Regions from separate parts of the Homo sapiens genome. Here region 1 is linked to region 2. Evidence: fine-mapped expression QTL. Tissue or cell type: left ventricle. Region 2 holds a variant in brackets; the other region holds the start of a gene. All regions are shown on one strand. Distances are from middle to middle.

Region 1 (8,188 bases), 38 kb after region 2:
ACCAAAAAATAAGGTACTTAAAAGGTGAAAATAGTAAAGACAATTGGCCCTTTTTCAAAAGCAGGGGTCCTAGTGAAGACAGATATCTATACCAGCTATTTTGGAATTTGTAAATGTCAACAAACTGTACATTTCCTGTCTTTTGTCATCAATTCTTCAATAATCCAGTCTCCCTGACCTGCTGACCTACTGTCTTTTGTCATCAATTCTTCAATAATCCAGTCTCCCTGACCTGCTGACCTACTGTCTTTTGTCATCAATTCTTCAATAATCCAGTCTCCCTGACCTGCTGACCTTACTGTCTTTTTCTCCAGTCCTCCCAAAGCCGATCTTGCAGCCTCACATCCCTTTATGCTGTTCTTCAAGCTCCCAATTCTCTATTGCCCTCAGGGCAAGCGACTATCTTCTGTGTTATCTTCTATGGGTTGTGCAGAGGCACAACTCACAGACGCCTGGTCCACCTTGAGTATACAGGTGCTCAAAAAAAACACTGAATGAGCCCACTTGTACCTCAGAATAAGTATTCCTTTTTACTTCTTAAAATAGTTTAACCTAAAAGAAACTGAAAGGCCATTTAAGAATGGTGAACATTTTCCTTTTTCCAAACTTCCTTAAAGTTAATTCACACAAGCACCATCAAACTTGTATACTGATCAGATCTCTATATTTACTAGTTTCCTGAAGATCTCTAACCTCCTTGACGCTCATAAAAGGTGATGGAGGGGGATATCACCTTGTACTTTTGTTAGTGTTGGTTTATAATAGTTTATTTCTACTTTTAAAAATATAAGGGACACAGACATTTTGTATTCTATTAGTAATACCATAGACTTAGAGTCTCCTTCATTTAAAAAGGAATTGTAAAGTACATATTGTACAACACTTCCGAGTTTGTCTCTGTAAGAGGAATTCAATCAACGTATTTTGAATGTATGAAGAATAAAACATTTTATTTTAATACACTGTGTTATGCAGCTATTGATGGATTCATTTTTTCCACACTGCATATTCAGTATTTTTCCATAATGTAGATTATTTCATAATGTATATTCAAGCCCGCTGTGTGCCAAACATGAGCTGGGTGCTGGAATCAGGGTCCCCACTTCATACAGCTTGCAATCTAAAAGAAGGATTTGCAAACCTTGATGAACTATATATTCCAGATACTTAAGCAAAGAAATCATTGTTTTCATTTTCTAAAGCATATCACATTCTAACTGTAATATCACTTTAAAATTTTATTTCCAAATTTGAAACAACAAAAAGTTAAACATTAGCTTTCATATAATCTCTTGAAGTAACAACGCAAAAAACTCTGGGATCAATCTACAAAATAGAGTAACAAAGGGTTCTCATTAAGTAAGCAGCAGGAGACTCACAAATACTTACATTAGCTTTAACTGTGCCTAGGATATCTTGGCTTTGGTTATTGGATTTAGCTGAAAATCAGTTATCACATTTTAAATTTTTCCCTGTCTTCAGATAACAGTATGAAACTAAGTTTCAAAATGTCCAATCCTACATGCTGAATCCTGGTAGATAAGAGTAGTTAATATTAAATGTTTTCTAGGATCTGATCTTAGAATTTTGACAGCAAACTTACATGAACCTTTTTTTCTTATATTATTTGAAGGTAAGAAATATTTCCTGAAGATTTATTCTTGATCAACCCACCTACTATATATTTGAAGATCAAAATGTCTATTGATCACTTATTTTAATCTCTTCTCAGTTTGGTTCTTACGTATCATTATAAAACTATACTGGCCCTGCACTGAGAATTTTTAGCCTACTTTTCTTGCTTGCTTTGTCATTAAACAAAAATTAAGCATCCATCCCATGCTGATATTATTAGCACAGATTACTTTAGCTGTACCTTGATTATCAGAAGACCAGGCCCAAATTATTTCCTAAGCAGAAACATAACGAAAAAAGTCCCAAGAACATTTTTAAATACCTCTTTATTAATACTAAATGCATCACAATTAACATAAACCAAAAGGTGCTTTAATATACTCCTAGGAAAGACGAATACAGATGGTTATTTGGGAACATCAGTTGGAATAAAGACCCCATCACAAACTATTCATCTCAAATGGTTATAGCAGAGAAAATGGAATACTCCTTTTTCCTTGGAAAGGCCTTGTGCAGTTTCAAAATCTGGTTTCAAAAGTCAGAAACCACTTTTCACCCTGGTAGGAGGAGGGGCACCAACGTATCTTTATACACCACCACCCCAGATTGGCAATATCCCTAAGATTCCCCAAGCATCCACAGCAGCGAGTGTACCTAATACGTATACACACACAGGTAGAGATGGGTACACAGAGCCAATAAACTGGTCCTCTGGAAATTAGAGAAAACATGATAAATGACTCTTTCTCCCTCGTTCTCCTTTCCTCTCAATCACTGCCTTCTGCACCTTATCTTTCTACTCTTGTCAGCAAGGAAGACCAACCCCCCTTGCGGGGGACTCGCAATCATTCCTTTGGGTTTTTCACACAGCAAAGTGAGAGCGACCGCTGGGGTTGCGTGCGTCAGGATTTGTTTTTTCTGTATTGCTATCCCCCCCATCCCCCGCCACCCCAGCCTCCCAAGCCTATACTTACTAGAGGGTGGCCTAAGGTCTGGGGAGATGGGATTGGTGCTGGGGGGATGGGACGGGAAAGCAGAAATTGGGCCACTGGCGCTCTAAGTCGGGTTCTTCCCCATTTCCATCCCTCCCTCCACTTCCCACCTTCCACCTTAGATACCTTTTACCAAGAGGCACCCCTGGGCCCATCCCTCCCTCCTTCCCCCACCGCCACCAGTCCCACCCTCTGCCGCCCCCCTCCGGGATGCCCCCAGGGCTGTCAGGGGGCAGCGCCCTTACCAGGCTCATGGACGCCAGGGTTGTCGGACAGCTCGATGACCAGGAGCTCCCGGCCCTCGAAGCTGCGCCCCACCGTGTAAATCCTGCTGATGGCGGTGCACTGCAGCCACACGGACACGAGCGCCTCGCGCAGCTCGGGGTAGCGGTGGTACTCGAAGGAGATGCCGTCCTCTTGCTGCAGCCGCCGGCGCCGCCTCATGCCCGCCGCGGGCGCCCCGGGCTCCTGGGCTTCGGCGCCCAGGAGCCACCCGCAGGCAGCCAGTGCCCCGCACAGAGCCAGCAGCGCGCTGCCCCCTCGCCCGGCCATCGCTGCGCTCCGCCGCCGCCGGCCGTGCCTTCCTACGCGGGCGGCCTCTTTTGTCTGCCCGGCCCTGGGCTTAGCCCGCCGGCGCTGCTGGGGGCGGCAAGTTCCGCACCAGCCTCTACTCGCCTCACCTTCCCCGGCTGAATGAGTGTCAGCCCGCGCACTGGGGCCACCCAGAGGAGACGGGCAAAGCCGCGGCTCCACGGGCTGCACTACTGGCCGCGGAGCCCAGGGGAGCTGCAGGAGAAACCACTGCGAGGAGGGGGCCGGCGGAGAGACGGGCCGGCGTGGATCTGGGAGGGCTGCTGGCGTTATTTGCTGGCTCGGAACCACGTCAACAGCCAAATGGCGTCCGGGACGACGCAGGTGAAATGACAGCTAAGGTCCGGGGTTCGGGAACGTTACTGTCATTGAGACACCCATGACCCACCCACGTCACTGCGTATGGAAAAAATATTCTTGTATTGTTAGTGGAGCCTTTTAAAGGGACATCTATTCCAAGCCTACCAGTTTCCATCTTGATCCACCAAGAATTAGAGAATATTCCAGAAAAAAGGAAGTACTGGCAGCCACTTGCCATCTCCTGATGCGTCTTTCATAATTGTATCAAGAGTCAAAACACAAACCCAAGGGTTGGGTTTTCATTTATTAGAAGGTCTTGCTGGAAATCAGAACATTAAGTGCTTTGATTTAGAGGTTTAAGAGAATAGAAATGCTTTCTTCCAATTTGTAGATACTGTCCTTAATTGTATTTATGCACATTCCTAGATTCTTCCAGAAAACAAACAGACAAAATAAATAAGGCAATGTCATATGGCTGTGCCTGCACCAGCCCTCCTCTTTAATACTATGGGGAAAATAAGTACAACTCTGCTGATGCTTTAGACAAAGGATTTAGTTTGGCATTAAGATTAAATCCTGTTAAGAAAACTCTGATGATGACATGACACCTCCGTTCCTTTTGCAAAGCTATTGTAAAAATAAAAAATCATTTACAGCTTTAAATATCCACCCCTTAGTCGGGATTTATATTCCTGGAGCAATGTCTGGAGCAGATGTTACTCTAAAGAGGCTGCTGTTTGGATTCAGGGACAGCACAAATCTAAATTAATAAATAATCCATTGGGTATTGCAACCGAGCAGGAAAAGTGGACACCATGCGGGTAATTTTCCATGTTAAGCTTCTTTGTTTTTCTAAACTTGTTCATTCTTCACCTGTTTAACAATGCATTGCACATAATAAAAACTTTTACGTGGAAAAGGAGTTAGATATTTAAGTCATCTTATTGGATCAATAAATAAAAGCACAGACATGGTTGGTAAGGTGCTGCTGGAGGGGCTGGCTTTAAACACCCCTATGTACATATACTACAGCAGCATGGATCTTCTTTTTTTTTTTTTTTTTTTTTTTGCGTTTTCGGGGAGAAACTGTCACTGTAAACACATGGCACTCAAGTTGAATTGATGTGGATCCAGCCATTTTTTTTTTTGTCAATGTAGGCAGAGCTAAAAATTGTATATTTTCCACTATGACCAGTCTGTGCTTGATTACATGGTCCAGAAGTTTGAAATCAAACTTATAATTATATTTCTAAAACCATGCCCAAAACAGCAACCTTGGAAGCCTAGAAAAAAAAATTGAGTAGCTAAAACCAAATAACTTCAGAAGTAGGAGGTTAAGATTTTCATGTTAGCAATTTAGAGTAACCACACTAATTTGTGGCTAGGTGGGGCATACTGACTAGTAACTACACACATAAACAACATATTTTTCATTGAAGTCCTGTGTTGTTCCTTAGCTGTCTCTTTGAACAAAGGATATGCGTTCTATTTTCTCCAAAATAAAAAATTTTGGAATGAAAACTTGGTCTTTGAATTTCTGGGCTATTTTTAGGTGTAGGTCAGCTGTACCAACTTTACTGGCATATGTATTACTTGTTTGTGGCTTCATAGGCAATTATACAAAAGATTATATATCCACCCTGATTGCTGGATTTAAAAAATTTTATTTTGGAGAAAAAAAAATTGTAATGTGTAAAATCATGCCTACTATGTGGTCTCACTTGTTGGGCAGGGGGTTCTCTTTTACAGCTTAGTTGTTTGTTTCCCTAATCTATAAAATAAAAGGTTTGGATTTTTCACTCTCTAACGTTTGCTTGCAACAGAATCATGTAGAGAGTTTATAGAATGTGCAGATTCTTAAGCCCCTATGAATTCATCAGGTCTGGGGTGGGTTTCAGGTATTAACAAGCTTCTAGGTTTTAAAAAGAAGACCAGTCATTTCTGATGTTGATGTTTGATTGACAAAGACATTTTGAGAAATAATGTACTGTAGGTTTCCCACTGTCTCTTTCAGACCTAAAATGCTATGATTCTGGAAATTTTCTTTTTGAAGTGAATTCCTGCTCATTTGATAAATGGTGGCACTCCTCACATATTATTGGTCGTACTACATACACCAAGGCATCAGTTCAAATGAACTAAAATTTGGTCTTTGAATTTCTGAGCTATTTTAGGTATAGGTCAGCTGTATCAACTTTACTGGCGTATGGATTACTTGTTTGTGGCTTCATAGGCAATTATGTAAAAGATTATATACCCATCCTGATTGCTGGATTAAAGAAAAATCTTGTATGCCAAGTCTTTAATGTGTGTACACATAGTTAAATTTAGTATGCAATCTCCATTTCAAATCATGTGCACACATGCACACACAAGAAACAAAAAGAGAAAGAAAGAGCTGCTTTTTCTTCATGTCATTATAGGCATCCATAAGAGCATATTTAAACTCCCTAGGTCTCCCTCCACTTCTTGCTTCACCTCTATTATCTTTAAATTAAGAAACTATCTTTTTCTTTATCAATAATATTTTATTTCCTTCTTTCAAAGCCCTTCCTAAAATTCGTCTACTTCATAAAAATTTTGTGAACACATAGCTCTATATTCATCCTGATGTGTGCTGGTAAATGTCAGCTGTCTGGGGGGAAAAGTCTGACTTAGAATGTTTGCTAATTTCCATGGTTTAAATATTCCCACCATGGCTGATTTCAAACTACCAATGTTGTATCACTGAATACAGTGTTAGGAAGAGATATGCAGTAGCATGACATCATATAGTGTTGTGATGGGACAATTCTTTATACTCCTCCTTTGCAAGTGATGAAACTTAATTTCTTCCATCTGAGTGTAGGCAGGACTTAGTGGTTTTCTCATGAACATAACACAGCAAAAGTAATGAGATGATCTTCCAAAATTAGGTTATTAAAAAGACTGCAGCTCCCATCTTAATTGCTCTCTCATGCTTGTGTGTGCGCTCTCTCCTCCCCCTCTCCCTCTCTCTCTCCCTCCTTTCCTTCCCCCAGTCCCCCATCACTCCATCGCTTGTCTTGGGGAAGTTGTCTGCCATATTGTGGAGAGGCTTATATAGCAAGGAACTGAGGCATCTGGCAAACAGCCTGAGAGAAACTGACATCCTCGGTCTAGCATTCAGTTAAGAACTGAGGTCTGTCAACAACCATGTGGGTGGGCAGGGGCAGATCTCAGCCCCACCTGAGCCTCAAGAGGGCTCCATCTCTGACATCTGAGGTTTACCACAGCCACATTAGAGACTCTGAGCCAGAACCACCACTAATACATACATCTCCCCCATACAGATACAATAGACATAAATAACCTCAAGAACATCAAGGATAGAGTGATGTCAGCAAGATAGCAGAATAGGAAGTTCCAGCCCTCATTTCCCAACAGAAACACAGATTTAACAGTGATATAAGTAACAAATTAGCTTCATAAGAAGTTCAGGATTAAGTTAAGAAATTTCAGTACCCCAGACAAACAAAAAATCACAATCAGCCACACTGAAACAGATAAGAAAAGCTATTTCACTTTACCTGCGAGTACAACTCAGCACCAGAGAGACTACAATCCTTTCCTGGTGTAGGGAGGGCAGGGGATAGAGAGTAGGGTGAGCATCCAACATTTCTGGCCTTTCAGTACACCCCTCAAGGGGCTGGCTTCTGTTGTGCCTCTTACAGAGTGCTTAAAGACATGGCATAGTCCAGATGCCTGGGAAAGCTAGGAGAATGGGCACCTTCCCATGGCTGGCAAGGCTCGGAGAGATCTGTAGAAGGCATAGAACTAAGGCCTCTCCTTCAGGAAAGAAGGAGGAGTGGATCATGACTCTAATGTCCTGAGCCTTTCAGTGAGCTCCCTGAAGAGCTAGTTTCTATCTCATCTCATATGGAGCACAGATGAGACTGACATGGGAACCAGAGGGAGCAAGAGATTGCTAGTGCTGAAAAGAAAAGAAAGGAAAAGAAAAAAGAAAAGAAAAGAAAAAGACTGAACACCTGGATCAGGACCTAGGAACAAGACCCAGAAACTCTATCTGGGCTGTCTTTCCCTATCAAAGCCAGTTCATTAAGAGTGGAGAACATGTCATTAAGACATGGATGTCACATGTAAAGACATCAATGCAAAGCTACAAGTAACATGAAGAAACAGGAAAATAAAACGCAATCAAAAGAACAAAATAAATATACAACAACTGGCCCTAAAAAAATGGAGATCTATGAATTGTCTGACAAAGAATTCAAAATGATCATCTTAAAGTAGCTCAACAAGTTACAAGAGAACCCAGATAGACAACTAAACAAAATGAGGGAAATAACACATTAAATAAATGAGAATATTATGAAGAAATAGAAAAGATAAAGAAGAACCAAATGGAAATTCTGAGGTGAAAGAATGCAATAACTGAAATAAGAAATTCATCATAAGGGTTTAACAGCAGATTTGATCAAACAGAAGAATTAGTCAACTCCAAGACAGGTCATTTGAGATTATCCAGTCAGAGAAGCAAAAAGCAAAGAAAATCAAAAAGAGTGAAGAGAGTCTAAGGGAATTATCAGACACCACCAAGTGAACAAATATATTGATTATGGGTGTCCAGAAGGAGAAGAGAGAGACAAAGAAACATGGAAACCATAAAGAAAATACATACAATAGATAAA
Region 2 (8,188 bases):
GTATCCTATAAATAAAAAATTATCTTAAATCAAAATGACATTTAATAAAAACTAATTATTCCAAATGCTTAAAGTACCTAATCTGCAACTTCAGAAGAATGGTTATTTGAATGCTTGACTATGCATATGAGCACAGAAATGCCATTCCCATTAAAATCAGGGAAAAGACATACTATGTAACAGTATACTAGAAATTCTCTACTATTCAATTATGCATAGGAATAAATTACGATATATAAACTTAAAAATATAAAGTACCAACACTGTATACAATTTATATAGTACACTCAGAAAAAAAACAGAAAAAATAAACTAGACATCACCTGTAAAATGGAGATGATAAAATAAAGAAATAAATAAACAAACTGGACAGCCATTAGAATTCAGAGTTCAGCAAAAAGGCCAAAAACAAAATATTTATATGAAAAATAAATAGTTGTTTTACTCCAACAATAACAAGTTAAAAATATAATGAAATAATTTATCCACAGTAGCAATAAAAATATTGCTAGCATAGGAATGACTACAATGAGAAGTATATCACCAATATTAACATAACTGCTATAATTTTCTGAGAAACAAAAGTTATAAAACATTCACTTTTTCTCAGATTTATACTTTGGTGCATTTTCACTCAGAATAAAAAAGAGAATGTTTATTAAGTGATAACATGATATGAAGACCTTCTAGAAGACAAACTGGTGGGAATAACAAAGCAAAGAAAATAATTAAAGAGATAAAATCTAAGAATAAGGGTGAGGATAGCACTAGCCCTTTGAGATATTAAGACAGTCACACATATAAGGCTACAAAAGTGAAAAAAAAATTAGGTGGGAAGCAATTATGTATGCATATATCACAGAAATAAGCTATTATATCTTTTATTTTCATATTTGAAAAAAAGGCATTCTAAATCTATGTTTAAAAATATTATCCAGTGAAGAAGTTTGGTTCAATTGGCTAGCAACTTGCAGAAAATAGAGTTTAGATTTTTAAATACCACCATACAATAAAGGCTGGGTTGATTGGTTGGTTGATTGATTTTTGAAATGTTTGATGTATTAGTTCCCAACTGGAGATTTGAATCAGAATCTCTTCTGGAGCTTTCTTCACATGCATGTTTGTGCCTGGGGACCACTCTTGGACAAGTGCAAAGGACAAGGAGTCAATGGACAATGGCTTATGTAATCTAATGTGCAAAACCCCTTCTGCCATTGAAAGACACGGAATTGAGTTCAAATCCTGACTCTGCTATTAGGTGTGTGACTTTAGGAAACTGAAACTTGGTTTTGATGATCTTACATTTCCCCAATTATAAAATGAGAATGAAAATAATAACTATTTTAAAACATTATTTTGAGGATTAAATAAAATGACTTACATAAAGTACCTAGATTTCATGCTTCTAATTCATTAAAAAATACACCGATACATGAGTTTGTTTCTCTGTCTGGAAAATCACATCTTTAAAAGTAAAACAAATTTTTATAATAAATTTAATTTTTTGCCTTCAGTTCTCAAGGGAAAAGGAGGAAGCATCACCACACACTCAGCTCCCAGCCTTTTACTTTACACGTCTAAACTTAAAATACAAAACTTAGACTTGAGCAACTGTGGTTAAAAATCTAAGAGAGAAACAATAAAAATAGAGAAGAATCCAACATATTCAGTTAGTATTTCTTCTAAAGAAGGAGAATGAAGCATCTAATATTTCTTATGCATGAAATCAAAGACATATTCAGGCACATAGCAGAAATGCTTTAATGACCTAGAAAAGAGTTGTAAAAACCCTGGCTTATTTGATTCCTCAAGTTGCACACCACCAGAAGACCACGGAGTAAGTAGTACTGAATTAAAATGTAAGCACAGAAAACTAGGTCCCAAACTATCAAAAAATGATTCCCAATTCTAAATGTTCAACCACATCTATCTTAAAATATTTATAATATTTTTTTCAAATTATCTCATACTATTCCAAATGATTAGTTTTCCCTGCTATATTTTCTCAACTTTCAAATTAAAATTCTTTGCTTTAAAGTTAGCATTGTGATTTGTCATTTTCTATATCCCATTCCAAAAAAACTCTCTAATGGAAAAAAATGTTTAGTACATTCCTTCAGTTAGAAAATTATCATTGCTACCTTAGCAATCTATTAACATTCTTGGGAGAATTCTTACTTACATCAAAAATGTGGAAAGAACAGATTTAATACAAGTTCAACTGCTTTTATGCAAAACAAAACACGTTTTATAATTTTGGTCACAATCTCTAAGTAAACAAAACTTCTATTCTAATGGAATAACGCATCTCTCATTTCTATTATCCTGACACAAATACACACTTACTTAATATTCTGTTTGTGTGCTATCACCCTTCCCTGTAATGCTAGCAAAGAGTTTTAATTTTCCCCAAAAACCTCAAACTACAGATGGATAATTTTATAGACTTTGTGATTTTCAGCACAATCACTCCTCACTGAACACTTCCTGTCACCATCTGCCTCTTTTAAGGCCAAATAGGACTTTTCTTGGCTTGTTTATTTTTCTCCACAATCTGTTGTCTGACATTTTTCTCACCACCTTCTGGCCTTCTGTATTTTTGGATAGCTGCTCCAATCTGCACTCTTCCCACTCTTGTGTCTCCTGATTTTTCCAATGGGTCTTGAATGTCAATCAGTGGGCTGTACTCATTCACACAGAATGTGTTTGCTTTACCACTGGTTGGTGATATTTGCGTTTTAAACAACACCCTTATTAAATTCCTGAGTCTATTATTCTGAATAACTACCTACATTGGTGTCATCTGTCTTAGAATGAAGGCTTAGAGGACAAAAAACTCTCAGTCCACCTGTCAGAATTCAATTCCAAGAGTACGACATGAATTTGATCTTGAGGTCCTTCATAAGTTGCACTCAGTGAAATGTGCCCACACAGAACAAAAACAAAAAAGTAAGTCAGACTTTGTTAATACTGAATAGAAAATGACTAATGGTTCTCAATTTTCCCATTCACTACAAATTATTTATTAAGTACCCACCATGTTCCAAGCACGATACCAGGGGCTGGAGATTTAATGTCTTTTTTTTTTTTTTAAGACAGACAAAATATTAAAGTTGTAATAAAAGGAACTGAACTTAAGGCCCTAGACACTTTTGGATGAGTAAAATGGTGAGGCTTCACATTTATACTGATATGATCTAGTTAACTTAGTGCTTTTTTCTACATCACTTTCTCTGGGCTAAAATCATAGTTCTAAATGAAATGCATTTTCTACCATCAAAAAAGACAAAGCTAATGATAAAAAAAAAAAATACTGCCAATAAATATTTGTGGAATGAATGAATGGCTGCCAGTTCTACTGTTTGTAGTTTTACAATCCTAAAGTCAATTAAACTCTCTGAGTCTATTTCTTCATCTGTAAAATAGAAGTATAATTCCTACTTCATTACATTGTTGAATGAAAAGAGATAATCTCTGTGAAGCCCAGGCTCTTAGAAACTGCTCTATAATGAATAGCTCTGTCTCCAAGTCAAAGGCAATTCAATAATACCAAGGGAATTATATTTAACTTAGTCCAAATATTTTCATATGGCTACACTTGACTTCTAGGAAATTTACTCATTTTTTT[TA/A]AAGTCTAAACTAAGGAGAATTGGACAGTTTCCCAATTTTTATAACCATCAACATCTTATCTGTTGCCATTCCTCCACCCCACTCACCCATTCCTTCTTCTGCCCCCTAATCCATTCCATATTATTTTCTAGTCTAAGAAAATGGCTCTTTCTTTCTGTCCCCTAAGCCCAGTGGTTTATTTGCATCTTTTGTAAATAAACCTGCCAGCTTTCTAAATAAAACCTAACTCCAGTCCTGCAAGATTACAGTGAAGAAAGCATCTCATAAGATAAAGAGAAGCTGGAGGTCAGAATTCTCTTTTTTACCAAATTCCATTCATTCATGGACTCATTGACACATTCGAAAATATTTTCTGAGTCCCCACTGTGTGCCAGGCACTGTCCAAGCTGATGAGAATACAGTGCTGAGAGAGACAGAGAAGGTCCCTGGTGCCACTGAGCTTATGGCCTAACAGGATAAACAACTGTAAAACAGGTTGATGAGGAGGCATATGTGGGGCCACCGCACTATCTAGGACAAACCTATATAACCCAGGCCGGGGGAATCAAGAAGGCGGAACCCCTACTGTGAAATCTAGTAATTGAGAAGAAGATAGCCAGGCAATGATGGGGAAGACCAGTCCAAGCAGAGGAAACGGCATGTGCAAAGCCTGGCATGAGCAGAGTTTGGGGCCTCTGGAGATCAAGCAAGTTATGTTGAAGAGCCTAAATTGTCTACCGCATATTCTCCCTTTGATGATTTCTACTGTGTTACCCTAAAGCCTCCAGCACCCTTTTGTGTAAGTGCCTCAGCCTGCCATGAGCTACACTACTGGAAATTTAAAACAATATTTTGTGTCTCCCCTAGGGGCCAGAGCATTAAGGGGAGCAGTGCCCCCACCACTAGCTAGCCCAATAGTGGCAGTGGTCACCGCCCAGAGCCCCCAGAGGGGCAGGTGAATGAATGAAGGGTAGGCAGAGTCAGGGCCAGAGGATCGGTGAAGACCCTCCCATGTGCCTTCTCCCTCCATCGCCAAGCTTAGAAGATCGTGTGTAACTTTATTAAGGAAGCCAGAAAGCTTCCCTACACCTTACTTCAGAGCAATGCTTTCGTCTCAGCTACTGTTACGGTTGAGTTGGCGCAGGAGTAGGGAAGTAGCTGAGCTGGCAGGGGAGTGCAGGCGGGAAGATTCCTTGTGTAGTCTGGGCCTTAAGTTTTAAGAAAAACGTTAACGCCATGCCTAGAACTGCAGAACCCAAGGCCAGCTTCTAATTCCCGGTTTTATATTTAGTGTTTACCTCTGGGGGATCTAGATCCTAAAGAAAACTAACTAAACAAACAAAAAAATCTGTGTCATTCTTGGACCGAAAACAAAAACTTACATTCTCCCATGTTACCTAAAAGGAAGACACAGGACTTCTATATATGTGACAAATATATATATATATGCACTATACCTGTGTACTACACAAATATGTACTATATGTATGTATGTAATATATATGTACTGTATATACTATATATGTACTAGACAAACAAATATATGCTATATTTGTGACAAATATAACATGTAACACATCACTATATAAATGTATTTGTATTAATTTTGATCTCTATATTTCTACATCATTTAAATTATACACTTGAGCTACAAAATAATTAGGTGAATAGGTGAAATAATTAGAGAATAAAAGGAAGACATGGAATATATAATAAATGTTTACCAAAAAGCTTTTACTCATAGTGAAAATTTAAGTATTAGTCATTATTAATTGTCCCAAAGCATACTTTAAAGGAAATAATGCTAAGAAAATATTAAAGATTGTGGTGACAGCTCCTCTGAGCAGGAGGAGCTGGTTTCATTTTGCTGTATTTAATCCAAATGATAAAGGAATTTAATAAAATTACCCTCTAGGTAGCAGTAGTTTTAAAAAATAATCCAAATCCGTTCTGACACAATAGCTCTCCAGAGAATAACAGTAGATCCTACAAATGACAGAGGAAGAAACTCACCTCGTCTGCTGCCCCCATGTAGAGAAAAATAGATTAACTCACTGCCATGGAATCCTGTAAAGATCATTCTCCAAAGGTTTTTCCACCAATCAGAAGGTCAGTGATCTAGAGATATTCTGGAGACCGGCACTATTAACATTTTCATTAATTATATCTATTTATGATTTGTCAGCAGCAAGGCTAAGGAGGAGATAAATTAAAGATTCAAAACCAATGCCCTGTTCAAACATATTCATTTGGAATTAATTTGTAATAATGAGGTGATTATGAGACAACTCATTCATCTGGTGCTAATTATATTTTGTTTTTTTTTTTAAATAATGGCTGTTTTTCCAATCTGGCATTTTGTAATGTCACTAAAGTTCACTTCAAAATGCAAATATATCCTAAGACAATAACCAGCTGTCCCTGCGGTCATGTGAGGTGGTACTTTTCAAGCTCAATTTGGTTTCTGGATGCATTCTTCTAAATTATTTTTTATATACACTGTAAATAAGTACATATGTGTATATATGTAAATATGTGTGTGTGTGTATGTGTGTGTGTGTGTATATATATATATTACTTTATCTCTATATCTACGTTATCCAGGATACTTTGGCTCAACATTTCTTAAGTCAAATTTTGCAGACCAGTCAATATTCATCAAACTACTTTAAGATGGAGCCAAGTGGCCTACAAGAGAATACTGCTAAGGCTGTTAACACATATAATTTATGCAGGAGAATATTCCAAGCTTCCTGACTGCATCACACTTTTAACTTTTTCTTACATTCGAAACTACACTTAGAATCATAACAAACTTCATTTTTCAAACGTTTGACTTTGAGGTGTGTACAAGTATACTCTGACTCTATAAACTTACTCTTCTTTAAAGCAGATCATCCTATTTATCATAAGATTATTAAAAATGTATACCTTTGCTTTTATTTGCCATAAAAAAAGCTTTCTTTGGAATAAAATAGATTTTTATCCAAAGATGCAGAACTGTTTTCAAGATAAATCCAATCTGATCAATTTGACAGATTAAGACTCTCTTCAATAGTAATTCCTCAAATTATTTAAATAATTTATGAAACAGTAAAGGCTTAAAATATGAATTACATAGCCTTAAAAGTTCTAGATCCTTCATGGATTTTATTTTTGGTTTATTATTGCAGGAAAATACATACAAATCTTTTGAGAAAAATAACAAAACCAAGACTTTTTTTCCCAGTGTGCTATAAGCGAGCTCAATAAATGTTTCAAAGTGAACGATTTTTCTTGTCCATATCAAAATAGAATACTCGTCAAATGCTATTAATAATTTAACTTAGAATAGAATCATAAATATGCATGAATGGAAGATCACTTCCTGTATCTCCATGCTCAGAAGACCTTTGACTAAACATTTCCAGAAAGATAAACAGCTGCCCAATTTTCAGGTATCTCCAAGCACGTCAATGCCAGAGGCTCTGAGAAAAAGAAAAGGCTTACATGACATCTTCTGTGACCTCTTGAGCTGTGTTGGTTGTCCCCTCCTCTGTGTTCCTGTTCATGCCTGTAACACAACTCCTAGCATGTCCCTTAATTATCTATTTACACATCAATTTCTCACAGGAAAGTTTCCAAAGCATTTTAGTTATCCTTGCTTTTTATTTGAGAAAGTAAGCTCAGAAAAGTTAAGTAACTTGCTTAAAGCCTCAAAGGTAGTACTGATAAAGCCAGAATTCAGCTAAGAGCTATGAGTCCAAAGCCTCTTGAATTCTCCATCATACTATGTTTCTGCCTCAAATATGGCATCACTCCTAATGAAGCTGGTGTTCAAAACATGCCTGCTAATTAATTACATGTACAAATGCCTTACATGTACATGTTCTGGGTCACCATGCTGGGTACTGGAGAGAACTGTGTGAACAAGATTCCCGTTCTCTATCCCCCAATTCTTCACTTTGGACCCAGCATCACATGGTTTCCAGGCCCGTGGACTCAGGAAAAGTGGCGTTGGACATGCAATTACAACACACTATAGAGACATGGCATCAAGGTAGAGATGAAAAGAAGGGACAAGAATAGCCACTTAAGAAGGGTAGAGTAAGAGGGAAGAGGGGAAGAAAAGAATGTTGAGGCCAGGGAACTGGCATATACAACATGTGAGAGACAAGAAAGAGCAAGTTTTGTTAAAATGAGAAAAGCCCTGTAGAGCTAGGGCTCAGAGAGTGCAAGTGTGACACTGCAGAGGTGTGCAGGGACCCAGCCAGAAGAATCTCAAGCGCATGCGAAGAAGTCTGGGTTTGATTCTAGGTGTAACAGTGAGCACCTGCAGGGAATTAAGCAGAGGAACGTTACAGATTTTGGATTCGAGAAAATCACTGGTTATAACGGTGCAAAAAGAAATGGAATACATGGCTGCTTAGAGGCTGGGAAGCCAATGACTGAAGCATTGAAGAGGTGAAGATGATGACTCTAGAACTTCTTCCCAGCATACAGATGTAAATAGATCACTGTTTACTTTTTAAACATGTTCATATTTTTTAAATGTGAAGAAACATACCTTTCTCACCTCCCTCAGAGGGTTGTTTTTAGG

Evidence for each region. PIP is the estimated chance that this variant, and not a neighbour inherited with it, causes the effect.
Region 1: CPE starts here. The variant in region 2 is fine-mapped to the expression of CPE in left ventricle (GTEx, PIP 0.90).

What each region holds. Positions count from the first base shown.
Region 1 is chr4:165,374,213-165,382,400 of GRCh38, reverse strand. CPE (carboxypeptidase E) reads right to left here and starts at 3,393. Exons shown (of 9, transcript NM_001873.4): 1 at 2,873-3,393. The coding sequence starts at 3,179. RefSeq lists an enhancer at 1,077-1,621 and a silencer at 3,101-3,360.
Region 2 is chr4:165,412,681-165,420,868 of GRCh38, reverse strand. The region is part of intron 1 of CPE (carboxypeptidase E); the gene reads right to left. Among named protein-coding and RNA genes, the nearest start is that of MIR578, 31 kb to the right of the region's middle. The variant TA/A (reference allele first, on the strand shown) is at 3,629.